Linked DNA regions of Homo sapiens: region 2 is linked to region 1. The links come from fine-mapping of genetic effects on gene expression. Tissue or cell type: whole blood. Region 1 holds a variant in brackets; the other region holds the start of a gene. All regions are shown on one strand. Distances are from middle to middle.

Region 1 (15,295 bases):
CTGGTGCCCACTTAGAATTGTGGGATTGGGGTATGGAGCATTCTAGAATGTTGGTGAAAAGTCTAGTCCTTTAGGTTTCTTCAAATGTTGGTCTTCTTGGGCCAGGCGCGGTGGCTCACATCTATAACCGTAGCACTTTGGGAGGCTGAGGTGGGCAGATCACCTGAGGTCAGGAGTTTGAGACCAGTCTGGCCAATATGACGAAACCTTGTCTCTACAAAAATACAAAAACTAGTCGCATGTGGTGGCGCACAACTGTAATCCCAGCTTCTCTGGAGGCTGAGGTGGGAGAATTGCTTGAACTTGGAAGGTGGAGGTTGCAGAGATCACACCACTGCGCTCCAGCCTGGGCAACGGAGTGCGACTCTGTCTCAAAAAAAAAAAAAGTTGGTCTTCTTGATCCTACATGAACTAATTAATTCTGTATTCCAAAGAATTAAGATAATGCAAATCAGATGGCAGCAGAATGAATCAAGTAAGAGTGGGAAGGGCAAATGTGAAATGAGGGGGCAGGAGTGAGTCACTCTTTTGTGTAGATGGATAGGGAATGCTGGAAAGGGGAGGGTGAAGGTGGGTTGGGGGCTGTGGGAGAGTCTGAGCAATAAGGAGATGGCGTAGCATGGGTAAAGGTGGTTTGGGCGACACAGTGGTTAGCAAGCTCTGTGGTTAGCATGTTCTGCATGAGTGACCAAGCAAGGCCCATTTTGGCACTTGAGATGGGATCACTGACCCTCGTTCCCCAGTTCTCATTGTAAGGTTAAACAAAGATGCAGTGTATGCTTTCATATTTTGAGATTAGGGTATCATTCTAGAAGGGACACATTCTTGAGAAATAGCTTGATTTCTTTAAAAAAAAATTGACTCATAGACTGTTTCCATGGCATTTTGATTTTTTATTAGTATTTTTTCCTAAGGTACTTAGATGGTGTCCAGAGTTTGTGACAGAGCCAGAAAGCAACTCCCCACCTTCTCTGAAATAAAAATAAATACCAAGAAGTACTATTCTAAATAGAGGACCAGAAACTACTCATATGGGTCAAAGTTGTCCCAATGACTTGGGTTAACTCAGGCCACAAACCTTTGCTCAGGCTTCTTACAGGGAATATTTTTAATCTGCCAATTGACAGACTACTAGAGATAGAGGTATAAACGTTGGACTCCATGTGATTAGAGCCTGATCTGAAGGGAAAATCCTCTTGCCTCCTTCTGACCTCTGTAACAGGTAATCTGTGACCCAGAAATAGATCTGCATTAGATGTTGGGCTTGATATGGGTTTATTTTTGATAGAACACTCTGAAATAAGAGTGTCCATTCTATTTGAGTGAATGTTTATTTGGGGGAAAGATGCTAGAGATATGCCAGAAGAGGCCGCCTGCCTGTGTCTTTTCAGGGAAACAATGGGATTTATTTCCCCAACCTGTGAGTGTTAAGTGTACTTGGTTGTTCAGAACAAAGTGCTGGTTAGGCCAAAGCAGGGTTGTGGCCCGATGGAAATTGGTTGGTTGCTTTTGCTCTCTCGTAACAATAGTCTTCTATATCCCAATTCCACGTGCAAATGTGGACAATGTGTGAAAAGGCCAGAGCTTATTGTAGATGCTCAGTAATGTTATGTATTAGCAGTGGGAGTTGTTGGATAGCAGATGTATTTTTATGCTTTACTTATATTACCTCGAATTCTCAGTATAACTTGTGACAAAAGAGATTTTATAAATGAGGAAACTAAAGCTCATAGTCACACAGCTAGTAAGTGGCTAAGTTGGAATTCACCCAGGGCTGTCTGTGTCTTCTGTCTCCTACACTGGCTGCCTCCTGCACTGAATTTTCTCCTGGGTGTCATTGGTGTCATTTGAATATGCCGAGGACAGCAGCCTAGGACTAGCAGGTCCCTGGCTGTGCCTATAGGAGTAGCTGTGTTCCTGCAGGCAAGCACTAAATTATCACAGGGTGGGGAGAGAGAGGGAATGTTGGCCCCCATTTTAGGATGGTCTGTCTCTTCTCTGTGCATCTGTGGACTTCCTTTAGGGCCTGGCACAGTGGAGGGGCCCCCTGGGTGTGTTAACTAAAGAGATTCTGTAGTTATGGAGTTGAAATTTGGGAAACACCCAATTCCAGGAAGGTTGATCAGCTTTGCAGTTTCTGGTTTGATTTGTTGTTGGGATTTCCAGTGTTGCATTAAAACTGCAAATCCCCGAGGGGCTGTAATGTGCAATAACTAAAAATGTAGGGCGAGTTTAGGTGCAGCTTAACTCAAGCTTAAATGGTTATTGTGTCCCATGCTCAAGGCAAATTCATTTTAGTTAGGGTGGAGATTTTTCTAGAATGAGGCAGATAATTCTGTGACATTTTCCAGTTCTTACTCAAAGATTCCTAATAAATTGTAAAGGCAAAGTATTCTTTTTCTTTTTCTATATGGGTCTTTTACTGTAGTTCATTAAAGATGAGAAAAAGTTGTATAACAGGAAAATCACTCAAGTAATGGTCAGATGATATGGGATTTGGTCAAATGTCAGCTATCCATCTGCATGGTGCTCTTTGGAATTCTTTTTTTTCAGGTCTCTTTCTCTTATATGCATGCACACGTATATTCCACATTTTTTTCTAATTACAAGAATAATTCATGCTTATTTTAGACATCTAGAAAATAATGCACACAAGGAAGAAAATAAAAATGATTCATAATACTACCATTCAAAGATGAGATTTTTAACATTTTGGGGTATATTCGTCTAACCTTCACTTGTGAGTGTGTATGTGTGTGTATGTACATATACTTTAAAATAGAAATATATATATATATATATATACACACACACAAAGATACTGTTTTATTTACTTTTGTTCTCTTCATAATTAATTTTCTACTTGTCCGTTACCCCATCTCTATCCAGAGTGTACTTAACTCAGAAAGGATTAATTCCTACAAGGTGAAGAAATTCTAGAATGTCTAACTTATTTAAGGGTGCCATTTATTTTTTTAGACTTTTCTTTATTATGATTCTTTTCAGTATGAAAGTGTTGCTTTTTCAAGTCAGAGTGGGTTAAGGGGATGTTGATGGCAGTCATTTGGCATGGTGAGTGACTTACGCCTACTGTCCGGTTTAGGTGGTAAAAATGGCAGAAGGCCTTGGAGTGCCAAAGGCAAGGGTTATGGGTCCAGCAGTACCATGAAAAAGGGAATATAGGCTGGGCGCGGTGGCTCACACCTGTAATCCCAGCACTTTGGGAGGCTGAGGTGGGTGGATCACGAGGTCAGGAGATTGAGACCATCCTGGCCAACATGGTGAAACCTACTAAAAACTACTGAAAATACAAAAATTAGCTGGGCATGGTGGCGCATGCCTGTAATCCCAGCTATTTGGGAGCCTGATGCAGGAGAATCGCTTGAACCAGGGAGTCAGAGGTTGCAGTTAACTGAGATCATGCCACTGCATTCTAGCCTGGCGACAGAGCAAGACTCCGTCTCAAAAAAAAAAAAAAAAAAAAAAAGAAAGAAAAAGGGAACATATAGAAGATCTCAATCTTTTACGTAAGGACATTGAAGTCCAGGGAAGTCTGATGGCTTTGTTCAGGCTGAGACTATCGTAGGGTAGACTGACATCTCAGGTTGCTGACTGCCCATTCTGTAATCTCTGCAGAGCACTTGGCTGCCACATAGTATAATCTGAAAAACTGGCAGCTGCCAGACGAATGACTGAAGGAGTAAGCTCAAGTGCACTAGGTGAGGTCAGGCCTGAAGGTCATTGGACTGATACTGAACCTGGCGTTTTGACAGGAATCCTATTAGAAATGCCACTTAGTCACTTGCCTCCTGACTGCTTCATGGTAGGAACAGAGGCTCAAACTATGGCCTGAATTTTTTGGATTAAGTTTAAGTTTTACTTAATATTATCCCAATTTTATCTCAGACATTATCTCAAAATTATTTCAAAATTTATGGTTGAAGAGAGGCTGTTGAGTATAAATTGCTAATGTACTCTGCTGAATTCCATCAGCTATGTGATTTGACTGAGAACAGTACGATCCTAGCCCACTGGGGTCTGGTGAATTGCATCTGCTCAGTCAGAGTGTTCCTTGAGCTGGAATTGAAATGCATGGCCCTTTAGTTTCCAGTGTGATGCCAACACTTCAGGCAATTGACTTTTGCTCTTCAGTCTCCAATAGGGGGAAAATTATGAAATAAAATGGGGATAGGCCAGGCATCCTCAAGATTCAAACCCATAAATATAAATAACTGTAATTAATCATATGCAGTCTCTCTTGCCTGTTGGAAATTTATACTCAGCTGGGTCAATAAGCTTCACACAGCTCTTAACTTCCTGGCCTGTAGTTGGTGGGAAATGTTCTGGGTGCGTCAGCCTTTAGAGATGTGACCTAGGGTTCTTTTCCAATATGGGTCCAAAATCAGTGCAAATTATAATGAGTTGTGGGGTGAGAAAAGTCACCTGGAAACAACCCCAGCCCAAGGGGAAATAGAAATATAAAAAAGACTTCTGTTGGCATTTAAGAGGCTCTCTTAGATGACACTGTCTGTTCATTGTTGTTAGCCTGTTAGACTGAGTGAGATGAACAGTCTTTCAAGTATGTAAGTTCAGTACATATTTACATTCAAGTTTATCCCTAAAGTATTTGTTTCCCTATTATAGAATCTTGTAGATTGCAGTTGGTATTTTTGCCTGTTTTCTCATATAATTTGTTAACTCTTTCCCCCTCTCCCATTGTGTCCTTTTTTCTATACTTGCATCTACTCATTATGAACATGGCTAATGGTATCCTAATGAAAAAGCAACCCTCTCTCTCTCCTGGGGGTCATTGGTGTCATTTGAATATGCCAAGGATAGCATCCTATCACTAGCAGGTCCCTGGCTGTGCCTGTGCCTATAGGAGTAGTTGTGTTCCTGCAGGCAAGCACTAAATTATCACATTATCTCTCTCTATCTCTTTTTTTTTTTTTTTTTTTTTTTTTGAGACAGGATCTCACTCTGTTGCCCAGGGTGGAGTGCAGTGGTGGGATCTCAGCTCGCTGTAGCCTTGACCTTCCAGGCTCTACTTTTACTCTTATTACCCTAAAAGGCATCCTCTATACTGCAGCTAGGGCATTTCTTCCTTTCTTTCTGAAATATAAGTTTCATCGTATCATTGTACTGATTAAAATTCTCCACTGACTTTTTTGTTTGTTTGTTTTTGAGACAGGGTCTCACTTTGTCACCCAGGTTGGTGTGATCGTGGCTCACTGTAGGCTCCAACTCCTGTGCTCAAGCAATCCTCCTGCCTCAGCCTCCTGAGTGGCTGGGACTATAGGTGCATGTTACCATGCCCAGCTCATTTTTTCTATTTTTTGTAGGCACAGGGTCTCACTATGTTACCCAGGCTAGTCTCAAACTCCTGACCTCAAGCGATCCTCCCACCTTGGCCTCCCCAAGTGCTGGGATTACAGGCATGAGCCATCATGTCCAGCCTACCCCAGTTATCCTCTAACCTATTATTTCATCTTTATTTTCTCCTAGTAATTCTCACTTTCAAAATACTTAATTTTTATGTTTGTTTACATGTTTATTTTTGTCTTTTCCAATCCATGAGAGTAGAGGAATTCCCAGCCCCTGGAACAGTGCTGGGGATCTGCCAGGTATTCAGTCAATCCCAGTTGAATGTATGTTACCTGAACCAATGCTCCTCCTCCTGTCTTCTTCACTTGGGTAGGTCCTTCACGGATACTTTCCTGAGTATTTGATGGAACTCTTGCTTTGGTTATATTCTAAGAAATTACAATTTTAATCTTTCCTTTGCTATTGGTATGTTTTCAATAAGCCAGTTCTCAAGGAATTTTCGAGTTTTTTAGAAGCAGCAGATGGATTTTTTTGGTCCATTTATCTGCAAATATTTCTTTAAATGCAGGAGAGCACAGAAAAATATACTAATTGTTTCTAGCACAGAAGCAGAGAGTGTTGCCATGTTTTTTCAAGATAATGTGGATCTATTCAGATGAGGTAGAATTGAAATAAGAATTTTCTTTTTCTAAGGCCTGGACTCTGTGCATGTACCTGGTTTGACATTCTTTTTTTCTTTTTCTTTTTTCTTTTTTGAGATGGAGTTTTGCTCTTGTTGCCCAGGCTGGAGTCCAATGGCGTGATCTCGGCTCACTGCAACCTCCGCCTCCCGGGTTCAAGCAATTCTCCTGCCTCAGCCTCCCAAGTAGCTGGGATTCCAGGCATGCAACACCACACCCGGATACATTTTTTTTTTTTTTTTTTTTGTATTTTTAGTAGAGACGGGGTTTCTCCATATTGGTCGGGCTGGTCTCAAACTTCCACCCTCAGGTGATCTGCCTGCCTTGGCTTCCCAAAGTGCTGGGATTACAGGCATGAGCCACCGCACCTAGCCTGACATTCTTAACTCTATGTAAGAGGCTGGGGTAGTTTGTTTCATTCACAGTGTGTACAGCAAAATCCAGATGTTTTCTAGTAAGCTCCACTAACCTGAAACACATAAAAGAAGGGGGTAAAAAGATCCCTGAAGAGTTAGAGCCAGAACATTGAAAACCAAGTGTTAAAATTCTAGTAAGTAGCTCCTTTAGCCTTACTTAGAGCTATTTACTTGTATTTGAAACAGTTAAACTAACTTGGCTCTCATTTTTCTAACCACAGTGGTAACAATGACGAGTTAATGGGTGCAGCACACCAACATGGCACATGTATACTTATGTAACAAACCTGCATGTTGTGTACATATATCCTAGAACTTAAAGTATTAAAAAAGAAGTGAGCTCAAAGATAAACAGGGAAGATTATCATCAGCCTGATAGTTTGGAAGAAGCAGGAAAATTGTAGGAAGCAGAGAGAGGAAGAATTCATACAGGAACAGACTGGGACCTGAGACCACTAAGTAAAGGCATTAATAGTGTTGTCACTCCTATTATTCCTGAGGCCATCACCATATCATAGCATGTACATATGGATGGCTGTAAGTCGTCAATAATTGAATTCATGGTTAATATTATTTAAGAAGCCAAAGTGTGACTTACATTCTTGAAATATAGTATTTTAATCCAAAAGAATACAGAATTTTTTTTTTAACTGTATACTCCACTCAGATGTAAACTCTTGGAATGCAGGGATTTTTTTGTGTGTGTTCTTTGTTTGCTCAGTGCCTGACACATGATGGATGATCAGTAAATAATTATTAAATAAAACCATGAATGCAAGTTTTAATTATCTAACAGTGCTAAATAAATAGGACATTAAGATAATGCCACATTTAATGCATGAGGGTTGTTTCCCCTTCTTCATCTATTGAATGAAGAAAAACCATAAAGTAATAAACTTTTAAAGTTAAAATAGCTTTGGACATTTTGAAGGCTAGCTCATATATAGTTGGAGTGAGGATCAGCAAGTTCAAGTGATTTGCCTGAAATCGCAGAGCAAGTTAGTGGAAGAGACAGAATTACAAGCGTGTCTTTCCTTCCAGAATACCCCCTGATGATTTTCTTTTTTAATTTAGAGTTTTGGGAATACAACATAGAGAATTATATATTTTTGGGAAAGACTATAGAGTTCTTTTTTGAAAAAAAGATCAATGACAGCTTCAAAAGGAATATTGAGTCGAACCCTTTATTTTCTCTATTTATGCTATTTAAATTTTAGACCTGTCACCTCTGTGCTATTAGCTCTGTAGTGTTGATACCAAACATCTTATGCAGAATAACTAGACTATAGTACTTGAATGCTTTTCATGAGGGTTTGTGCTAGCCCTTTTAAAGAAGAAAAGAAATATCTTTTTCTTTAGTTTGGAAAGGATGCGTTATTCAACTGAGGAGAGTAAGATCTTATGACCAAGATCATTTTAGCCAAAATGACTGAGATAGAAATACAGCTTTCCTCATTATTTTTGCATAGGTGAAGGAAAATGTAGTATATTTTCTTCACTTTTTTTGGAGTGGGGATGGAGCATTTAGGAAATACATTGTTTTCACTTACTTTAAATGGGAATTTTGTTAGCAGTATGAATTACTTCAATCTGTTTCTCTCATCTGATTCTTATTTCCTTGTGAGTCAGACATTTTTAGGAAGTGTAATCAGTAAGCTAAATATTCTAATACATGATTATTTTCACTACAGTACGTCTCAGGTTTCCTTTTTCATATATGCATTGTATCTGTACTTTGGCTCTTTGTTGTAGTTCCATTTATACTTGTGGATTATTAGATGTACAGAGGAGTAAATTTTAAATGTAAATTTCAACAGGTTACAGGAGAAAAAAGACTGCAGGATGGAAAAACTAGTCAGCTTTTTTCCTAGGGATCTTCTCTCTGTTAAGGAAACAGAGTGACTGGTCTTCCCACCACAGCGCACTTCTTGATCTCTTATAACTCTCAGTCACCACTTATACATTAAATATATGTGTAGTGATGTTTATAATAGAGCTGTATTCAAATTGAGAACTTTCTTTTACAATGAACTGAACAATAACTGAAGTTATTGTGCTATAACTAATTATTATTAAAAATTCAGTCATAATTTAAAAAAATAAGCTCAGGATTTCTTAAACCATCTTCAACAGATACTTCCCCAAATATATTTCTAACGGCATATAATGCAGTTGCAACAGGAA[C/G]TTTTGAAAGAATTGGTACATTTTCTTTTCTTTTTTTTTTTGAGATGGAGTCTTGCTTTGTTGCCCAGGCTGGTGTGCAGTGGCATGATCTTGGCTCACTAAAGCCTCCACCTCCTGGGTTCAAGTGATTCTCCTGCCTCAGCCTCCTGAGTAGCTGGGACTACAGGCACCCATCACAACGCCTGGCTAATTTTTGTAGTTTTAGTAGAGATGGGGCTTCACCATGTTGGCCAGGCTGGTCTCGAACTCCTGACCTCAAGTGATCCACCCGCCACGGCCTCCCAGAGTGCTGGGATTACAGGCATGAGCCACCGTGCCCGGCCTGGACTTTGTTTTCTTACAAAACATTTTACAGTATGTATTCAACAGCCATGATTGTAGTTACTCTGTAAGGCTTTGTTAGTTTTAATAAATTTTGAGGGAAGGCTTGATATGTTTTAATCTTAAGACAGACATTTAAAACTCTTTGATTTGCAGCTTATTTTATAGCAAGGTAAAGGACTTTTTCTTTTCTTTTCTTTCTTTCTTTCTTTCTTTTTTTTTTTTTTTTTTGAGACAGGATCTCATTCTATCACCTGTGCTGGAGTGCAGTGGTGCCCTCATAGCTCACTGCAGCCTTGAATTCCTGGGTTCAAACAATCCTCCCACTTCAGTCTCCTGAGTAACTGGTACTACAGGCATGTGCCATCATGCCCAGCTAATTAAAAAGATTTTTTCTGTAGAGACAGGGTCTCGCTTCCCAGGTTGGTCTTGAACTCCTGGCCTCAAGGGGTCCTCCTGCCTGGGTTTCTCTGAGTCTGGGATTATAGATGTTAGCCACCCACCACTCCAGGCCTTTTTCTTGTTTTGATTACTGAAGTAGATTCTGTAACAGCATGTAAAATGTAAAAAGAGCGTTTATGCTGCCAAAGGAATGTCAAACATTATCTTAACCCAATAAAGGGTTAGTAAAGGGGCGGAAAGACTGAAAGAAGCACAGGACTAGTATGGTCTGTTTGACTAATGAACTTCTTTTGAATGTTATCAATGAATGTGTTTCATTGATAACATTCCTGCCTCCTCAAGGCAGATTTAAAGTTTTTCTCCCTGTTGTGCTATCTCCTTTTCATGCTAAGTCAACCATTTCTTGTTAGTTGATATAAATGCAAGTTTGTTTAATTCTGTACTAGGCATGTTATCTACTCAGCTCCTTAACCTGACTTGTGTTTTTACAAGGGGTTGGCATTTTTGTGAAGGAATGCTTCAAGTTTTCACTTGGGAGGGACATTTTATTTTGGGGCTCTCAGGGTTACCCTCAATTATGTATATGGTAAGCAAAGAAGGCAGAGATAGATTTTAATGGAATATTAAAGATAGGATTGTACGACTTTAAACACAAATCCGTGAATATATCTGGAGTGATACAGAGTATATATTAACTTTGCTTTTAAAATGAATTTAAAATGGAATACAAATTCACTTGCGTGCACTAACTATAGTTCTTTATGACTTTTATAGCAATTGTATGGAAAGCAAACATAATAGAAACTATTCTATTATGAATTAAGCTGTGGTTATTTGCATTTAATGAATATAATGAGCTTCATTGATTTCTTATAATTCTATAGTGAACCTCATGAAATAAAGAAAAAGGGTCAAATTTGTGACTATAGTTCCAGTGTGTATTTTAGAAATGGTAGAAAGCATAAGTATGTTATATGGCAATTGCCTTGGAAATGGCATATATTTTGTAAAAAATCGGGTCTTAAATAATGCATCACTACTAGAGTGCAAACGTGTATCCTTGTGTTCCTCTAAGGCTCCCTCCCTTTCAATGCATTTTTTGTTTTAGAGGACTTTGTGAAATAAATGCTCGATTAACAGTTATGACATTATTAAACTTAACCCCCCATCACACATCAGAAATCCCATGTAATAATGTTTGCAACAAATTTTTTATAAACAGAGACTTTTAACTGGCTCACTTAAAATAGTTATTGACCTTATTTTCTCCTTCTTTTGTACCTTTTACTTGCATTTTTTGAACTCTGCCCCTGAAACTAGCTCAACTCGTTTCTTAGCCAGCTTCTCCTGTCAAGCTTCCAGGCTCCTGCCCTCCTTTGAGGCTGAGAAGTGGTCCTGGGCCAACCTCGTTCTCACTGTTGGTTTGCTTCTAAAATGATATAATTGACATAAAGGTGACCCAGGGAGACTCAGAATTTTCTAGCTTTACACTATGTGAATTGATATAAATATAGTGTTTATTTTCTTTCGCTTTCTCTTTGTTTCATGATTTTTTTTTTTTCTCATTCTTCTTTATGGAAATACTCTTCCTCTGCTAAAATTGTTTACTTTCTCTTGGGCTGGGGTGGGCCCTTCTGGCAGTAATTGCCTGGGGAAATAAATGGATTGGAAGTGAAAGAACCTGCCCTTCTTGGAAGCAGGCTGGCCTTTTGATAGGGTGTGGAAGTCAGGGACAAAGCTAGAGTCTGGATGCCTTCCCAGCAATGTGTGAGTGTGTTGCTTTAGCTTCTTCCACCACAGTCCAAAAATTTGTGTATTTAGAACCTGAGGATTATGTTTCACACATTTCTGTTGACTTTTACTTGGTTTTTTGATTTATCTTGCGTTATCAGGATAATGCTTTTCTCAGTGACTTCGGAAAAGCCTTTTTGTTTGTTGTTTGATATCCTGTTCAGTGTATATATTCTTTACAACTATAGGTTGTTATTGTTGTGTTTGTGTGTTTTTGCTTTTGATATAATAGAGAAAAGGCTAAAGAAGGTGACGGAAGGATAAAAGTGTCTTCTGTTTTCTTAGGACTTGATACATTCACTTCTTTCCATAGGGATTGTCTTTTGTGAAGAACCCTTGGGTCAATTTCCTGTCCAGTCTTGGCCTAAATCCTTTTTAAAAGCAACAACAACAAAAGAGGAGAATTCACCTTCAGTTTACAGAATAGACCTCCTCTCTGTTTCCAGAGAACAGGCTAATGTGCCTCTTCTGTTTGACTGTTTTGTTCATTTAGGTCTGATAGCTTTCAAAAAGTACACTTGAGGGCTCTCTGTGTGTTTCTGTAGGAATCACATGTGTAAGATACAGGTGTGTAAGTCCTTCTCTGCTTGGCTGGGGGGAATGCGTTTGCAGGCAGAGTACTAATCATGATCCCCACAGTAAAGTAAAACTTGGGGAAAGAGTAGTACATGGTATGCTTTGATTGTTACTTGTCTGAGTAAGCACTGTATCAGCATATGTTTGGTGTGTCTGAACTATGAGATACCTCCTTCAAGGGAATTGTACAAAACATTTGTTATCACATTAATTGGAATAATAAAAGGTTTGCTTGCTAAAACACATCTAGTTCAAGCCACCCAGTGATCTTGACTTTTATAGTTAAAAGGGTGCTGCTGGGAGGGAAGAGGCTTTTGAGCTCACTCCTTCTTCTGTTTTACTGTGGACTTGCTGTCAAGCTATCCATGATTACAGACCCGTTTGCTAGGACCTTCTCTGATGAGGTTCTATATGCTTATTTTGTAAGACTCATGCACTTTTCTTCAATAAGTCACTGGATTTGTATGCGAGTGTGAGGCCTGGCCCTCTGAGTTGTGCCTTCCATGGGTGTGACAGTGTGACACGACTCAAAATAGTTGAAGGAGTGGGTTTTGCATGCACAGCTACAGGAGCAGGTGGCTGCACAGATGAAGTGTAAGGAGCATTTGCTACCTTTGGACCACAAAAGGCTTAGGTAAAGGGCTTAGTGATTAAAGGGCTACCTCTAGGTTACATCTTGGGGTTTTTATTTAATGTTTGAAATGCCTTGTACATCTGGATTTCTCAGTGTAGGTGATTGGAAGAGCATGGATCGCTTTTATTTATTTTTAATTTCTTTTTTCTTTTTAATTTTTCTGGGTACATAGTATGTATACATATTTTTGGGTACATGAGATAATTTGCTACAGGCATGCAATGAGTAACAGTAATATCAGGGTAAATGGGTATCCATTACCTTAAGCATTTATTTCTTTGTGTTACGAACATTCTCTTAGTTATTTTTAAATGTACAGTAAGTTATTGTTGACTGCAGTCACCCTGTTCTATCAACTTCCAGATCTTATTCATTCTAACTATGTTTTTATACTCATTAACCATCCCCACCCCAACCTCACTACCATCTCCAACCTTTGGTAGCCATCCTCTACTCTCTGACTCTCTGTCTCCATGAGTTCATTTGTTTTTATTTTTAGCTCCCACAAATGAGTGAGAATATGCAAAATTTGTCCTTCTGTGCCTTATTTATTTCACTTAACATGATGTCCTCCAGTTTTACCCGTGTTGTTGCAAATGAAATGATCTCATTCTTTTCTTTTTTGAGACGGAGTCTCTCGCTCTGTCGCCCAGGCTGGAGTGCAGTGGCGTGATCTCAGCTCACTGCAACCTCCACCTCCCAGGTTCACGTGATTTTCCTCCTGTCTCAGCCTCCTGAGTATCTGGGATTACAGGCACCCACCACCACGCCTGGCTAATTTTTTTGTATTTTTAGTAGAGACGGAGTTTCACCATGTTGGCCAGGCTGGTTTCGAACTTCGGAACTCAAGTGATCTGCCCACCTTGGCATCCCAAAGTGCTAGGATTACAGGTGTGAGCCACTGTGCCCGGCCTGATCTCATTCTTTTTTATGGCTGAATACTACTTCATTGTGTATATGTACCACATTTTTGTTATCCATTTGTCTGTTGATGGACACTTAGGTTGATTGAAAATCTTGGCTACTGTGACTAGTGCTGCAATAAACATGGGAGTGCAATATGGGATGCCTTTATGTCTTGCTGGAGAATGCATGCCCCGAGGACAGCAAGGCTGGTCGTTGAAATTACTCTTCTGTAATTGATCTTTGAGCTGTACTCTCCGCCCCTCCATTGGTCATGCTTGTAAGGGATGGAGAGAAATATGCTTACTTCTATGCTGGCATAAGAATCAAAACCCTGAGAAGTTCTAAACTAATGGAGAGCATGGGGATTAGAAAGGTAATTGAGGTTTCTATATAAGAAACCAGAAAGATAGGAGAGTTTTTGTAAACATGAAGGTGTTACAGGAAGGGGGTCCCCATCCAGATGCCTAGAGAGGGTTCTTGGATCTCACACAAGAGTTAAGGGTGAGTCCATAAAGTGAAAGTGAAGGAATAAAAGAATGACTACTCCATACACACAGGGCTGCTGGTTGCCCATTTTTATGGTTATTTCTTGATTATATGCTAAACAAGGGGTGGCTTATTTTACCCAGCTCCTATTCAAGATGGAGTTCCTCTGGTTCACACGCCTCTGACAAAGGGACCCAGGGCTTATTCCACAGAGGAGTGACAAATGTATTTGCATGGAATCTTTTTCTTTTTCTTTTTCTTTTTTTTTTAAGACAGGGTTTTGCTCTGTCGCCCAGGCTGGAGTGCAGTGGTATGATCATGGCTCATTGAAGCCTTGACCTCCTGGGCACACATGATTCCTCCCACTTTGGCCTCTTGAATAGCTGAAACTAGAGGTGTGCGCCACCATGCCCAGCTAATTTTTAAATTTTCTTTAATAGAGATGGAGTCTTGCTTTGTTGCCCAAGCTGGTCTTGAACTCCTGATATCAAAGAATCCTCCTGCCTTGGCCTCCCAAATTGCTGGGATTACAGGTATAAGCCACTGGTCCAGCCCATTTGCATGATTCTTACTTATGCTAAATTTGTATTTTGATAAGTAAGGCTTCTGGAAGAGAGAAGACAGGGAGATGAGTAGGAGAGTGAGTACTTTTTAAAGAGATTTCAGAGGCCAGGAAGTGCGATCTGGTTCTGGAATAAATTTGCTTGTGCATAGTTGCCTTGCCTATGAATGGGAGGAGGTAGAAGTGGTGGATGCACTCAGGGACTTACATGAAATAGGATGTGAGGAGTTGTTCTTTGTTAAAAGTCACTGTCTATAATGGGAGCCCTACAAGGACATCTAAGAATTCATCTGAGCCAGATAAGTTGCAGCAGTCAGGTACAAACAAAGGTCAGCAAACTTTGAGAAGTGGCAAATTTAGTTTTTGTTTGCTAGCAGTAAGTACATTTTGTTGTGTAGCAATTACATCTGTCAGTTCTAGGCAAAATTTTCCCAAGTACCTATTACTCTTGGGAGTTTTAGACCCAAATATTCATCTGTGCTGTTTTCTGAGTAGATGTTCCGTCAAGATCTCAAATTTTCTTAGTTGCAAGCTGAGCTTCTCTTCTTCCTTAAACCTGCTTCTCTTTCTAGATCTTAATATTGAAATCTTGGGGTCATTTTCCAGCTGCCCAAACTAAAACCACTTATTGTGTTCAGTCTCTTCCTGCTGCCTCCTGTAATCGGTTGTCAGGTCTTGTCATGCTGTCTAATTGAGTGCTGTCCTTAGACAGTTGTGCAAAACATCAGTCTCTAGATTTGCACTCTTTAATGTTGCCTTAAACCAGGCTCTTCTCTCACATGGGATCTATTTCATTGCCCTCTAATTGGTCTCTCTGTCTTCGTAAGCTTCAACACTAAAAATCTACTTGAACAGTCTTTACAGAACGTTAGACAAAACATCTTACTTCCTTAATCTACAGCCTCTACTCCCCGTTGCCAACAGGATATCATAGAAATATTTTACTTCACGTGTACACAGTCTTCCTCTCTCTTCCCTCTGGACTTCTTTTTAAACACCATTTCTAGCTGTA
Region 2 (15,295 bases), 28 kb before region 1:
CCACTTTAGGAAGGCCACCTTTGTGAGGGCAGGACTTTTGCTGTATTTCAATACTATAAGAGGACCAGGTTGACAGTGAAGAACACAATAAAAATTGGCTTGTACCACATTTGACTATTGAAAGATATTTTTTAGAATACACATTACTCTAGATTTACTAGAATAAAAAAGTTTCTAGATGCCCTGACACCAGTTTCTAGCTATTTCTCATATGTCAAGTTGTTTCATTCTCAGAAGCTTGGCTAGCAGTTAGGCAGGAAGGGAACAGGATTATTTATTTACAGCGTGGCCTAGAGAATTTTTAAATAATACACTTCCCATTAAATTGTAAAATTTCTCCTTGATGGATGTTACATTTAACCATTCTCTCCTTCTACTTTACGCCTCCCTAAAGAGCTCTTTCAAAAATGAACTTTAATTTGTAACTGAAGGATAACAGAACAAAGATTCTCTGCTTTCCTGTCTTCCATTTTTCAGGCTTTATATGATGATTTTGCTGATAGAGGAGGAATGAAGGAGATTTGCTTTTCAGGCCAAGGAACAGCACCTGTTACCCTCTGGCCTATGCTCTGTGCGTGTAAAAAACTTTCCTCTTGGCTTAGCAGAAATTAGGTCAATGCCTACATGTTTGAAGGCTAAGATACAACATCCTCACTTTAAAGCTAATCATGTACAGACATAAATCCTGTCTGTTGCTATTGTTATGCTGTTTTTGCTATTCAAATTCATTCATTTTCTTTTTTTAAAATCATGTTATAACATTATAAACAGTGGTCAAGTTTATTTTAAGCATTTACTGCTGAGATTTAAACCATTTCCAGGTTATATAAAATGTATTCAGATGTGGGACTGAACAAATCTCCAGTTTCTTGGGTTATTTACCATTGGTTCAGTTACCTCTTTCACTAGGATGATAACTAAGCTTTACTCTGAAAAGCTGAATTCTCTATTTTGTTTCAGCTCCCACAACAGAACTTAATACTTATTCATGTTCTCTGCAAGAGTTTCTTGGGACATTTCTGCTTACCCACACTTTCCTGCTGTTATTAAATAGGTGGCTATGTTCCAGAGACAACATTATTGAGTTTACATTATGAAAATTTATAAAAGCTAGTTTTCAGTGCTACCCTGTCCCAGGGACAAAGTGGATTCCTGTTTAGGGAAGGAATACACATTTCCTTTACCCTCAGGCCTTTAAATCTAAGTAAGTTTCTTGGTGCCACTTTATATTGATGCTTTAGACATTTATTTTAAGAATACATTCCCAGTTCTTATAAAGCAGAAATAAAACTTAAAGTACCCATTTAAAAATATATTTAGTATTTTTATTTCATCTTTTCAAGGATCATATATTTTCACTTCATTCTTGATTCTAACTCTTTCAGAATCACTGACATGGAAAGATTTTCTGTTGGATATTTTTAGATGTCTATAACTCTGCTGTTAAGAATTCGTGTATCAAGTAGGTGGAGATCTACCAAATGAGCTGTTCTTATCTTAAGATCCCAAAGTGATTGGTCTGATCCTGCTCAAGGATTTAAGATTTTCTTGGACAGCACTGTTAATCTTTTAGATACTCTATATTAGTTTTGTTTATTGGTAAGTAGTAAACTTGTAGTCTTTAATTTTTGGTTAACTTCTTAGTGTTTGCAACTATTGTTAACAATGGATACGATTATGTTAGATGCATATATAACATAACTTTCTAATTCATGTAAACTACCTAAACTGTACCCAAATTAAAGAATATAATGAAAAAAATATGTGAACATACAAAGCTCAGAACAAAGTGTTTTGGCAGGATATGCTTGTGATCTAGGGAGGAAAACTGACATTGGTAATAGTTCTATTGACAACTTATATACCAGGCATTTTACAAATATTATCCCACTCAATCCCAGTTTGGCCATCTGCTAGGTGTGGTGTCTTCAGCATATTACTTAATAGGTTTGTACCTTAATTTCCCCATTTGGTGGAATGAAACAAAAGAAAAAAAAACAGAAAAACAAAATACTTACATAGTTATGCTGAGGATTAAGGATTACATCACCTTGTTAAGACTAGTGCCTGAGATAAAGTAAACACCATATGAATGTTTGATATTAACATCCTTCACTGATAAGGATACCGAGGTTCTGGAAAGCTAGAGAACCAGACCATGGTTGAAGAACTTACAAGAGATGACTTGAGCTCACACAGTGTTCTCTATACCAAGCAGTTTCTCATTTTAGTCTTGGCTCCATGTTTAGCTAATGTTGTAATACTGCTGAGCTTTGGTTTTGTTTCTTAGAAAATGAAAGTGTGGGGTTAACATTTACAGCCCAGTTCAGTTCTAGTATTCCATACATTTTACTTTGAGCTTTGGTAACCAATGAACACTTACCTGGCTATGGGAAAAATTTGTTTTTCTCTAGAAATGGGCAAGGACTAAAATAGTTGGCTCTAGACATGTGGTGATCATTAAAAGTACATGGTAGACTCATCACTGGAAAGTACCCACATGGTGGGAAAAGGTCAATCCCAGAAGCTGCGTTTAAGATGTCTTAGTAGCAGGTAGCCTACTCTCCAAGTTTGGGAAGGAAAAAACTTCTTGCTCATTTTGTTACACCAGGATATAGGTGACAACCTAAATTCGTCTGACAACACAACAAAAACAAGATAAATGAATGGTGGACCAACTTAGGCTTCTGTAAGACAGGTATGGGTGAAAAAGGGAAAGCTTTTCAGATTTTTGTGGCCATATGAGGATGAAAACCCATGACTGTCCTTGAGTTTTCTTAGGCACAGGAGAAAGGAGTTAGGTGGCACCAAAGTTATTTGACACCAGAAATCTGAAAGACAGTAAACATAGTTTCATTCCAAATGCTGAGTCATTCTTATGGGGAAGAAGAGAAACACTTAAGACTCTCACTTCCCTGAGGTCTTGGTCTTCACTAGATTGCCTTCTGCTGAAATAATTACTTCATGTTTTAAAATTTGGTTATGGTCATTGTTTCCTTTCTCATAACCCCACTTAGTCTTCCTACACTTTTAGTTTTAAACCTCTTTATTTGTTTGATTTGGTTTTAATACTATAAGCAAAAAAGAAGCAGTAGCAAGTGTTTGTTGAGAAGGGAAGGTTTTTGTTTTTTGCTTTTTTTTTTCAATATTGTCTGTGGAGCTGGCATAGTAATTACTGAGAGCAATTCCTAAATTAATGATTATCTCCCACTTCTCCATGAAAGTATCTTAATAATGAAAAGAAAGTGCTTAGGCATATAGGAAATTGTGTTCCTGTTACATACTCTAATCAGCAACCAAACCCTTTCAGTGGAATTCTTGTTATATTAGGAGCAAGACACAGGGCTAGAGATAGGGAGGCAGAAAGCTACTTAGATACTCATAAAAAGAATTGTCAAAAAAGGCTTTAAAGTGTTATGTATTAGGCTAGAAAGAAAAATTTGTTATTATATTTTATTCTCTTTAGAAAAGATTCATGGAATAAATAGGGCATAGTGTTTTATTTTATACGTGTCTGCGTGTCTGTGAAATCTTTTTTTTTTTTTTTTTTTGAGATAGAGTCTCGCCCTGTTGCCCAGGCTGGAGTGCAATGGCGCAATCTCAGCTCACTGCAACCTCTGCCTCCCGGGTTCAAGCAATTCTCCTACCTCAGCCTCCCGAGTAGCTGGGACTACAGGCGTGTGCCACCAGACCTGGCTAATTTTTGTATTTTTTACTAGAGACAAGGTTCCACCATGTTGGTCAGGCTGCTCTTGAACTCCTGACCTCAGGTGATCCTCCTGCCTTGGCCTCCCAAAGTGCTGGGATTACAGGCATGAGCCAACGTGCCCGGCCAGTATCTGTAAAATCTTAAAAGAATGATCATAAACCTCTACATTTTGAAATTAATATTCATTAAAAATTTTTTAATTTCCATTTTTATTTTAGATTCAGGGGCTACATGTGTAGGTTTGTTTCAAGGGTAGATTGTGTGGTGCTGAGGTTTGGACTTCTATTGATTCCATCACCCACATACTGAACATAGTACCAAATTGGAAGTTTTTCAGCCCCTGTCCCCCTCCCTCCTTTTGGATTCCCCAGTGCCTATTCCCATCTTTATGTCTGAGTGAAACCATGATTTAGCTCACACTTACAAGTGAGAACATGTGATACTTGGTTTTCCGTTCCTACATTAATTTGCTTAGGATAACGGCCTGCAGCTGCATCCATATGCTGCAGCTGCATCCATGTTGCTACAAAGTGATTTTGTTCTTTTTTAGGGCTGTGCATTTTTAAGAATTAACAACTTTGAAAATATGCTCTAAATAACTTATGCTCTAATTGCAAGTCAGCAATGTTTTATTGGAGAAAATTATCTACTATACAACAGTTTCCTATTTATTTTATTCAAGTCAATAGTTGAGATTAGATGTGTGTGTGAAGAGTGGGAGAGTGGGAACTATAGAGCAGAGGTGCACGGTCTTGAAAAAGAAGATTCAGAGTAAATTGTATGCTGATCAGGTGAAGCTTCTTTCCTTGTCTGTGCCAATTGACCCCACTCTCATGCACACCTTTTTCCTTCTGTGTCCTTCCTGAATCCCACCAGATGCCAACATCTTTCTGCTGTCCTTTGGTTGTTCTGGGCCCCAAATTTGGCAAGAGGAATCACGTCCAGTGCTCCTGACTTTTCTCAGGAAAAGGTGGTTAGTGAAACCACCTTTGCAAAATTATGACCTAGACAGTGAAAGAGATCTAACTTAACCGACTGCAACTTGTTTCTAACCTACAAGCTGTCCTTGTTCATTCCTGGGCGTAGGCTGAACTAACTTTGGGAAAAACTTAGTTTACAGTTTATAGTTTTAACAAAGGTGGTAACAGCCCATTCCCAAAGCAGACCTCCCTCTTGCCTGGGGACTAGATTGCCTTTGTAGGACTAACAGCCACAAAAGATTAGAAACTATGGTTAAGGAGTCATTCTGACGCTCCCTAAACTGCTTCTAAGATCAGTGCTTGAGATATTTTGCAGACCCTGCACTTGACGGATCAGCTGGTACCACCTAGATCAATAAACTGACTCCTCTGACCTTGTGGCCCTCCACCCAGGAACTGACTTAGTGCAAGAAGACAGCTCCAACTCCCTATGATTTCATCCCTGAGCAATCAGCACTCCTGGCTCACTGGCTTCCCCCAACCCACCAAGTTGTCCTTAAAAAATCCGCTCCACGAATGCTCCGGAGTCTGATTTGAGTAATAATAAAACTCTGGTCTCCCGCACAGCTGGCTTTGCGTGAATTACTCTTGCAATTCCCTTGTCTTGATCAATCGACTCTGTCTAGGCAGCGGGCAAGGTGAACCCCTTGGGCGGTTACACTAGCTAGCAGTGTGACTAGGACTAGTGGGGAAAATAATCAGCTGACATAGTATGGATTGGACCAGATCGCTCACCTAAGCATTCATTTCAAATCAAGAAACATTTAAACATCAGTTATATTCAGGCACTATGCTAGGCACTAGAGTACAAAAGTGAGTAACTGATGGTCCCATTTCCCAAGCACTGAACTGATCTGGGATAATCAGTGAGAAGGAAATCCAGGACTGGCACCCAACTCAACCAGATTATTCCTTTTCTGGGTAACATGTTGCATTTCTAGATAAATGATGAGGGTTTGAAAAAAATGATAAAAATATTGGTTTGATTTGTCAAACTAAAGAAAAAAGAACTGAGGCATACTTAATATAACCAGTCTCATGATGTTGCCCAGTCACAAGTTTTTATTTATTTATTTTTTGAGATGGAGTCTCACTCTGTTGCCCAGGGTGGAGTTCAGTGGTGCCATCTCAGCTCACTGTAACCTCTGCCTCCCAGGTTCAAGTGATTCTCCTGCCTCAGCTTCCTGAGTAGCTGGGATTACAGGTGTTTGCCACCATGCCCGGCTAATTTTTGTATTTTTAGTAGAGATAGGGTTTCACCATGTTGGTTAGGCTGGTCTTGAACTCTTGACCTCGTGATCTGCCCACCTCAGCCTCCCAAAGTGCTGAGATTACAGGCGTGACCCACTGCGCCTGCCCGGCCACAAGGAAGTTTTTAAAGGAAAAGAAGAGGCAGTTTCTAAATTGTTTACCAATAATTTACATAAAAAAACAAACTATTAATTGTCTATAGATTGTTCTTCGTATCACAAATTCCAGGAACATGAAGATATGGTTGGGTAGTCAGTCATGAACAAAATGCCTTTAAACAATCGCCTCTGAGCATGAGTGTGGGGGGTGCAACTTATGTCCCATATTCAAGGTCTCTCTGGGCCTGATAAATTTTGCATACCTCACATTGCTCAAATGCTCTGAACTATTTTTCTTTTCTCAACTACAATTTCCTTTTTCTGGTTGCTCATGATTCAACTGGGGGAGCTTTTAAACCGTGGTTCTCAAACTTTAATGTGCATCAGAACTACCCAAAGGGCTTGTTAAATCTGGGTAGCTCAGCCCCAGCCCCAGAGTCTATGAATCAGGTCACTGGAGTACAGTTTCTGTCAAGTTCTCAGGTGATGCTGATGCTGCGGGCTCCAGTGACTACACTTTTAGAGCCAGTTTTAAAATACAAGGACTTGCAGATCCCACGTCCAGACTGACTCATTGGACTTGGGGATGGAAATCTGGCATTCCACCCCTCCCTGCCCCCTCCCCCCAATTTTAATGTGTCCAAGGGTGAGAATCATTGCTCCTCTGTGGACTATGGATGGTTCCCTGAAGTTACTGAGTTTGGGATTTAATAAATATATGCATTCCTCTGGGTCAACTACAGGAATTCTGCGGTATTTAAGGACATTAAATGAGTGACTTAATACTTTATTTAAAAAAATACCACTGCTTTTTGGTTCACACTAATTTTCTTCCTTCTTTTGGAAAGGCATTTCCGTCCATCTCCTGGATATTTTCCAATACCACGATAGAAAGGTTATTAGTACAGCACCCAGAGGTCTTCGGAGCAAAGCTGTTAAAGAAGTGGGGTCCATTTGAGCCCCAACTTTGCCTTCCTTAGGTCCCCTTGGGCTTGTCTAGCCCTAGGAGTTCCAACAAGTAAGCTGGGCATGCTCAGTGGGCAGGGTCGTTTTTTTTTTTTGGGTGGCGGGGGGTTGCAAGTGGGAAGCCTGCTGTTCAGCTGCCGGGGCTCTCCGCCTCCCCCCACCTGTATGAGGCTGGGTCTGGGGAACCTGTGCTCAGCATTCCACCCCCTGGAGCTTGGGCTTGGTCTTCCCTGCGGGTCCCTGCGCTGACATTCAGGCGGGGAGCCAGGAGGCCTGGCGCGCCTCCAGAGCCCGCCGGGGGAGCCGGGCGAGGGTTCTGGGCTCTGACGGCGGGGTCGCAGGGTCGCCCGCCTCCTGGACACGTCTGTAGGCCTAGGGAAGCCTGCCGGCCGGGAGGTACAGAGTAGGAGAAGCCAGATCCCAGGGCGGACAACGAGAAGTCGTCAGGTAAGCCAGCCCCGCCAGCGTGCCGGCGGACGAGTGTCTCCTCTCCCGCAGGCAGATGGCCAGGGCGGCCCGCATGGGCGAGGGCACAGGAAATCGGACACCGCCACCGTCTTCCCCAGCCTGGCCTAGCTCAGGCTTTCCAGTCCGCCAGCCCGCTGGCAAGGCGGGGCGGAGGTCTGGAGTCCGGCATCGCCGAGGCACAAAGCAGGAACTGCAGCCAGGGGCGAGGGCCCTTGCGTGTGGCGCTGCGCGACCCCACCCGGCGGCAGGACCCGCGTCCCCGTCTAGTCACGTTCATTGGGCCACGGAGACCACCTCGCTCGCCGCCCGCTGTTGGCTTTTCCCTCCCACACCCCCGCCAACCCCGGCCCCGGTTCCCGCCCCCACTTCCGCGTTTCCCCGCTGGGCCGGAGGAGCCTGGGCCCGAGGTATCCGGGCAGGAGGTGGCGGCCTCGCCGCCCTGGTCAGGCCTCCGGGAGGGAGCAGGCGCGGGAGCGGGAGGAGGAAGTCGGGAAGAGGGAAGGCGGGGGCGCGGCCCGCCCGGCGCTCGAGTTACACCCGCCCAGCCCGCCTCGAGTGACAGCCCCGCGCGCCTCGCTGGGAGCACCCGGGCCGAGGCTCTGATTCTGGGGGGAGGCCGACTCCACCCTGGCTGGAGGAACTGGGTGCTCCTGCCCGCTGGCCCCTCGCGCGTGAGGATCTATCTCAGGTGTGTGCTTCCTGGGAGACCCCTTCCCCCGCCTCTAGTATTCTAGGGGGGGAGTGGTCCCTTTCTGACCCGGGCGAGTGTTCTGGGACTCCAGTCTTGGCGGTAGGTGGTGGCGGGAAACGGGAAAGATTTAGAATTTCTTCCCACCAGCAGAAGATGGATTCGCTCTTCTCTAGGGTTTCGTTGTTTATGTTTTGGAGGCGGCATTTGTAAAATAGTAAAGTGGCAGGACTTTTGGGGCGAGGGTTGGTACCCCATTGAAAGTTCATGCAAACTTTTAGCTTGTAGATGCGGCTAGTCTGATAAGGATTGTTGCTCCCTTCCGAAGCAAGAGTGAGAACGAGTCTGGAGGAGGGCTGAGGCTTCTTTGAGAAACTCAGCTGCTGGCGTGTGACCGTCCTAGGAGGAAATGGAAGGTGCACACTGATAACTTAAAACAGCCTCCACTCCCTATGTAGTAACTTCTACCAGCAAAAATAGATTTGCAAAGAGTGCTTTGGCAGGAAGGTGTAGCTGGGTGAATGAAGTGCTGCTCTTAGCAGATGGTCTCTAGTCTGGCTTCCACCTTGTGCAGTGGAATATTCACTCCCAGAAGAGTTCCAGAGTAATTTACAAACACAAATTCTTGCAAAGTGTTAGTGACATGGGCAACCCAAATCACACACAACACATTATAAATATCATAGGAGGCAGCTATAGAAATAGCAGCTAGTCAACTTATACTTGTATAAATAGGTGAGGGAAGGAAGTTAGTAAGTGACAGGGAGTCTTTATTGCTAAAACAAAACTGTTAGTATTTTGCATGTGTTCCAAGTTTAAAGAGATGTGAAGTTTCTTTTTGGCGTGTGGACGGTGCTGGCAGCTGTCACACTGGGCCCAGGCACTTCTTCGTAGCTACTGACCACTCTAGTCCCAGTCCTACAGTTCTTGCTGGCTACCACATGACATCTGGATGCCATTGCCCAATGGAGACCGTGTGCAGTCTGGGGAACCTTGTGATGTGGATGTTGAAACCCCCCTCTGTTTCTCACAGGGGCGTTATGTCAAATTACAACACTCCCTTGACTTTTACAAATCAACTCGTGAAATAATACAGCAATATTTTAATGAATAAATGGGTAAATATGGGGTTTTGGGTTTGAGAACCAACAATGGATTCATTGCAACTGTCCATTCTCATAGCTTATAGAGTCACTTTATTTTATAAAGAAATTCTAAACAGCATTAGAGCTCTGCTTCCTTCTTTCTCCCTTGTGATTCATTCAAAGATGCAATGGCTTGGTTCAGGAATTGACAAAAGGGCCACAGTGTTACCAATTGTTAGTGAGTGTTACCACCCCCTTTAGTTTTTTTTGTAACTATTTAATCTCATTGTAGATATTTTAAAAGATTTGATGATTATTGTGCATAACTCATGTTGGCAAACTATTATAACTCTGAACTTATCCTGTTTGGTTGTTTTCTTTCATCTCTAGCGTGTAAGTTCTATGAGAGTAGCAGGGCTTGTTCTGTCTTGCATACTTTCAAAACTCTAATGCCTGGAGTGGTGACTAGCTTGTAATACACCCTCAATAAATGTTTTCTCAATGAGTGACCTCCAATGCCTAGAGGGGTGACTAGCTTGTAATACACCCTCAATAAATGTTTTCTCAATGAGCGACTGAACTGTGGAACAAACTCCAGCTGAGGGTAGTTGTGGAGCGGGGAGCCAAAGACTTTGGCCTTAGGTCATCTTTTAAAACTCAGCCTCAATTGTCTCATTGGCAAAATATGGATAATAAATGCTATGACGTGTGTAAAATTGCTAGCAATGTACCTGGCAAGTAGTAGACTTCAAAAGACTAGCTTCCATCCTATATTTTTCCTTCTTATACTCAAGTAGGAAAATATGGGCAAAGAATGTAGTTAGCTTGAAAATTTGGGCAAAGAATTCTTGCATGTTGTGCATGAATTATCCGTACATTTTTTTCGGTTAGTTGAGTGTGTTGGGATGGGGAGAGGAGAGGCGAGTTAGTGGTAGCTATGGTTATTAGAGAAGGGAAGCAATTTTCAGATCAGTATCTAATTTCTCAGTTTTAGTTTTTGAATGTGATGATGTTTCTGTTTAGGTTTTCCAAAACTTGATTCTTTCTGTTTGTCAACACCTGGACTCATGGGGCTATCCTAAGTGCAGAAACAACACTTCAGAAAGAGGACTAGAAATCAAATATATGAACACTAGTCTTCTTAAATGAAATTTTCTGTATTCTTGTGCAGCATTATATTGTGTAATAAGTGCTAAATAAAAAAATAGTTAACCTCTTTTGAGAAGCTTACAGTTGTTTAACAAGGTAAAACATAGATGGAAAACAATTGGAGACCAACATAAGACCTCGTACAATCATTTTTCCAGTGGTAGGATGTTGGCCAGAACTGATGTGATTATGAAGGAAAAGGTTAATATTGGCTCAAGTAGTTGGAGACAGCTTCCTGGTGAAGGGAATGCCACTTCAGTAACAGAGAGACTTAACATGTCCTGAAGACTATTGGAAAGATCACCTTTGTTTTAGGAATGTTTGCTATTGTGTACTTCATTGTATGAAAAAGCCAACATAATCTTGTACTTTCAAAAATGATCTTTCTGTTGAAAATTATATGGGAAATCTTCAGTAAAATTCTGCATATGCAAGAAATCAATACTTGTCACTATGTCTGTGAAGTTTAAAGCTCAGGATTGGCGTGAAAATGGTAACTCTTCATTCTTGTCCACCTTTAACACACTTGCTTAAAAATGTGTCAGATAGGCCAGGTGCAGTGGATCACACCTGTAATCCCAGCACTTTGCTTTGGGAGGCCAAGGCAGGCAGATCGCTTGAGCCCAGGAGTTTGAGACCAGCCTGGACAACATGGAAACCCCATCTTTACAAAAAAATACAAAAATTAACCAGGCATGGTGGCACGTGCCTGTAGTCCCAGCTACTTAGGAGGCCAAAACGTGAGAATTGCTTGAGACTGTCTCAGAAAAAAAAAAAAAAAAAAAAAAAAAACAAAAAAAAAAAAACAAGCCAGGCAGGCACAGTGACTCACACCTGTAATCCCAGCACTTTGGGCTGGGAGGCCTAGGCAGGCGGATCACCTGAGGTCAGGAATTGGAGACCAGCCTGGCCAACATGGCAAAACCCTGTCTCTACTAAAAATACAAAAATTAGCCGGGCATGATCGTGGGCACCTGTAATCCCAGCTACTAGGAAGGCTGAGGCAGGAGAATTGCTTGAACCCAGGAGGCAGAGGTTGCAGTGAGTCAAGATTGTGCCATTGCACTCCAGCCTGGGCGACAGAAGGAGAATCTGTCTCAAAAAATAAATAAATAAATAAATAAATAAAGTGTCAGATGGCCTGCCAGTTATTCTATTCAGTTTTGACAATGGGGTATATTTTATATATTTTTTACCTGGAGTATAAGGAGAAAATTATTAGTCATCAGGGTTGAGACCCCTCAACCCGCTAAATTCAAAATTGTTACTTGGGAGATAGAGAAGAACTGAATGGAACTAAACTAAGAAGATATTATTAAGTAAGTTTTAGTTGCTCATCAAAATACTTAAATAATTCCATCATGTCTTAAGACTTTTGAGATAAGAAGAAAACTTGGAAGTGGTATGTTAGGGGAAGAAGAAACTAATAAAGTGTGTTTTACTTTTCTTTGTTTTAGAATTGTTGACATGATGCGTGAAAGAAATGTATGAGGAAGATATGATCAAACTCAACTCCAAGTGAGAAAGACAAGGGCCAATGTGACTGCAAGCCAGGAAATCTCTAACAATTTTAGAATAGACTTCTTCCTGTACTATATGACCAGGGAGTGATCTCAGGAACATTTAAGAAAAAGAAAGGAAGAGATGTTGATGGTTTGAATACCTGAGGATGTTTAGATAATGATTGTGGTCAGAATGCATCCAGAATTCTAATTTGTGTCCTGATGTGAATGTGACCATGTTTGTTTGTTTGTTTGTTTTTGTTTTCCCTTTGGCTTGTGTTCTGGGATTTGATCTCTCGTTAGAGACTCTTACTAGTTCTTTGAGTTGTGTATTTCTTTCTATATCATATCGGTGCTCTTATTTCCTATTTTTCAGTAGAGAATTTTATGTTCTTTCAAAACCAAATTTCTGATTTATGCAGCAAAAACATGATTTCTGATTTATTTAGGTCAAGCTTCGGTTCAATTAGTTCACAAAATTAGTGGGAAAAATTGGTTAATAGATGTCTCTCCTTCTCAAGTACAAATGTATTGTGACATATTGTGATATAGTAAGAAAGATACTTGTCCCCAGTTCTGACTAAAGAACTTTTAAGACCCTTCGAATCTCTGGAATGATGAGTGTCTTTTTCTACACTGCTGAGATGACAGGTGACTCTTGGTAGAACCCTAGATAGCTTCAGGATGGAGATGGGAGCTGGTGCCAGAGGAACCAACTATGTAATTAGAGGGTTGGAATTTCAGCTTCACTCCAGACCTCCGGGGAGAGGAGAGGGGCTGGAAATCCAGTCAGTCACCAGTGGACAATAATTTAATCAATCATGCCCACATCATGGAGCCTTCATAAAAACCTTAAATTTTGGAAAGCTTCTGAGTTGGTGAATACATGGAGGTGCTGGAAGGAAGGCATGCCCAGAGAGGACACCCCTTCTCCCATTTCTTGCCCTGTGTACTTCTTCATCTGGCTGTTGATTTGTGTCTTTTTTAATACCTTTTGTAATAAACTGTTATATGTAAGTAGGCCTGTTGTGGTGGCTCACACCTGTAAGCCCAGTACTTTGGGAGGCCAAGACAGGAGGATAACTTGAGCTCAGGTGTTTGAGATCAGCCTGGGCCACGTGGAGAGACCCTGTCTCTACAAAAAATTAAAAAAGAAAAAACTAGCCAGGTGTGGTGGTCCATGCTTGTAGTCCTCACTACCCTGGAGGCTGAGGTGAGAGGATCTCTTGGGGCCAGGAGGTCAAGGCTGCAGTGAGCTGCGTTAGTGCCACTACGCTCCAGCCTGAGTGACAGAGCAAGACCTTGTCTCAAAAAAAGAAAAAAGATAAAAAAGTAAGTAAATTTCTGTTAGCCACTATAGCAAATTATCAAATTTGAGGATGGGGTTGTAGGAACCCCTGATTTGTAGCTAAGTCTAACAGAAGTGTGGATATCCCGGGGCCCACTATTTTTGACTGGCATCTGAAGTGGAGGGCAGTCTCATGGGACTGAGCCCTTACCCTGTGGCGTCTGCACAAACTCTGGGCAGTTAGTGTCAGATTGAGTTAAATGGTAAAACATTCTAGTTGGTGCCCCTAGACAGAGAGTTTCTTGGTGTGGAAAACCCATACATTTGGTGTCAGAAGTATTGTGACTAGAGGAATAAGTTTTCTTTACATATGTATTGACAAAACTTAAAGACATTATTTGGGTACATCTTTTAATTATTCAGGCAAAATGAAAGAATTACTTATGTACTGTATTTTTGACAGTGAGATACTGTCAAAGTCTGGGTACTTTAGAACAATGATTGTTTGATTTAGATTTTTCAAGCCTTATGTTTTTTGAATACTAGTATGTCCTCTGTGGAATCTCATATTTGATTGTGCACATATATCCTTCTATAAAAGGGTTTAATATAGTGGGAAAAACAAACCTGACAAGCTATGACAGAGAGACTGTTTTCTGAAATCGAGATTTCTAGAAGCTGCTACTGTCAAATGAGATAACCTCTGAGTATTACTTGGTGACAATGGGGTGACATGCTTAGAATGCTTTGCTACTTGTATCTGCTGATGACCACCAAGGCCAAGTAGAAACTTTAGATAGCTATATACTTATGTGGAACAAAAGTTTATGTTCAGGGTAAACTTATTAGGAAAAACTTTGGTCAAGATTTCAAGAAAACATAAAATAAGCTTCTAAGTGTACTTCAAAAGTGATGAAAATAATGCAGTTCAGAGTACTAGGTTCTCAAAAGTTGTTTTCTTTTCATTTTAACTGAATAAAAGAAAGGATATTGGCTAAGTGTTGGCTCATGCCTGTAATCCCAGCACTTTGGGAGGCCAAGGTAGGAGGATCACTTGAGCCCAGGAGTTTGAGACCAGCCTGGGCAACATGTGAGACCCTGTCTCTACAAAAAATAAAAAATAAGCTGCGTCTGGTGGTGCGTGTCTCCTACTTAGGAGGCTGAGGTGGGAGGATCCTTTGAGCCTAGGAGGCCGAGGCTGCAGTGAGCCATGATTGCATTACTGCACTCCAGCTTGGGCAACAGAGCAAGACCCTGTCTCAAAAAAATAAAAAAGTAATAAAAAATAATAAAAAGAAAGGATGTTTTGTTTCATTGTGGTAATGCCCAAACTGCTTTGATCATGTCACTCTCTCTGCTCCATGCTTCCATGGATTACTCTGCCCTATTTGATCACGTTCTAAATATTTGTCTTGGAATTAATTCAGAGACTCCTTCATTCTCACCCTAATATTAAGGTGCTGTCCTTATCTTCTCTATGATCCAGTCATATTGGACTGATTGGAATTCCCTAAATATAAAAGTAGGAATTCCCTACTGTTGTCCCTATTCTGATGTTCTTCCTTCTATTTCACTTTTTGAAATCCTAACAAACCTTGAGTGCCCTGACCCCTGGCTACTAGTTTTATGACATTTTCCCTCACAGCCCCAGTCAGAAATGTCTTGTATATTTTCTAAACCCTTTAGCTACTCTTTTTATGCTACTCATAATTCCCTTATAGATGCTTGTCTCCTGTAATTATTTGCAAGCATGCATAATTTTCTTTCCTATGGAAGATCATGCTGGATCTTACACAATTTTGTAGACCTCACATGCCTAATCCAAGTGCCTTTCATGTGGGTGACACCTAGTAAGCAGTTGTTCATTAATGGTTGCCCCATAATTCAGTCATCCCCAATTCAGCAATAAGTGATAAGAGTGTGCTGGGTGTGATTGGACACCAGATACCACACAGGCAGGTGTATTTCAGGTAATCTATTCAACTGGATACTTTAAGCTTCATCTTTTTTTAGGCATCTCCCTCCCTACACATTTGGCAGTTTTAATCTTTTTATTTTTATTTCAAAATTTTTTTCCCTCCCAAGGTGCTGAGAGGTTTAATATCTTAAGG

Evidence for each region. PIP is the estimated chance that this variant, and not a neighbour inherited with it, causes the effect.
Region 2: GPD2 starts here. The variant in region 1 is fine-mapped to the expression of GPD2 in whole blood (TOPMed, PIP above 0.99).

What each region holds. Positions count from the first base shown.
Region 1 is chr2:156,456,223-156,471,517 of GRCh38, forward strand. The region is part of intron 1 of GPD2 (glycerol-3-phosphate dehydrogenase 2); the gene reads left to right. Among named protein-coding and RNA genes, the nearest start is that of GPD2, 27 kb to the left of the region's middle. The variant C/G (reference allele first, on the strand shown) is at 8,606.
Region 2 is chr2:156,428,354-156,443,648 of GRCh38, forward strand. GPD2 (glycerol-3-phosphate dehydrogenase 2) reads left to right here and starts at 8,026. Exons shown (of 17, transcript NM_000408.5): 1 at 8,026-8,160. RefSeq lists silencers at 7,128-7,297, 7,738-8,147 and an enhancer at 7,538-7,587.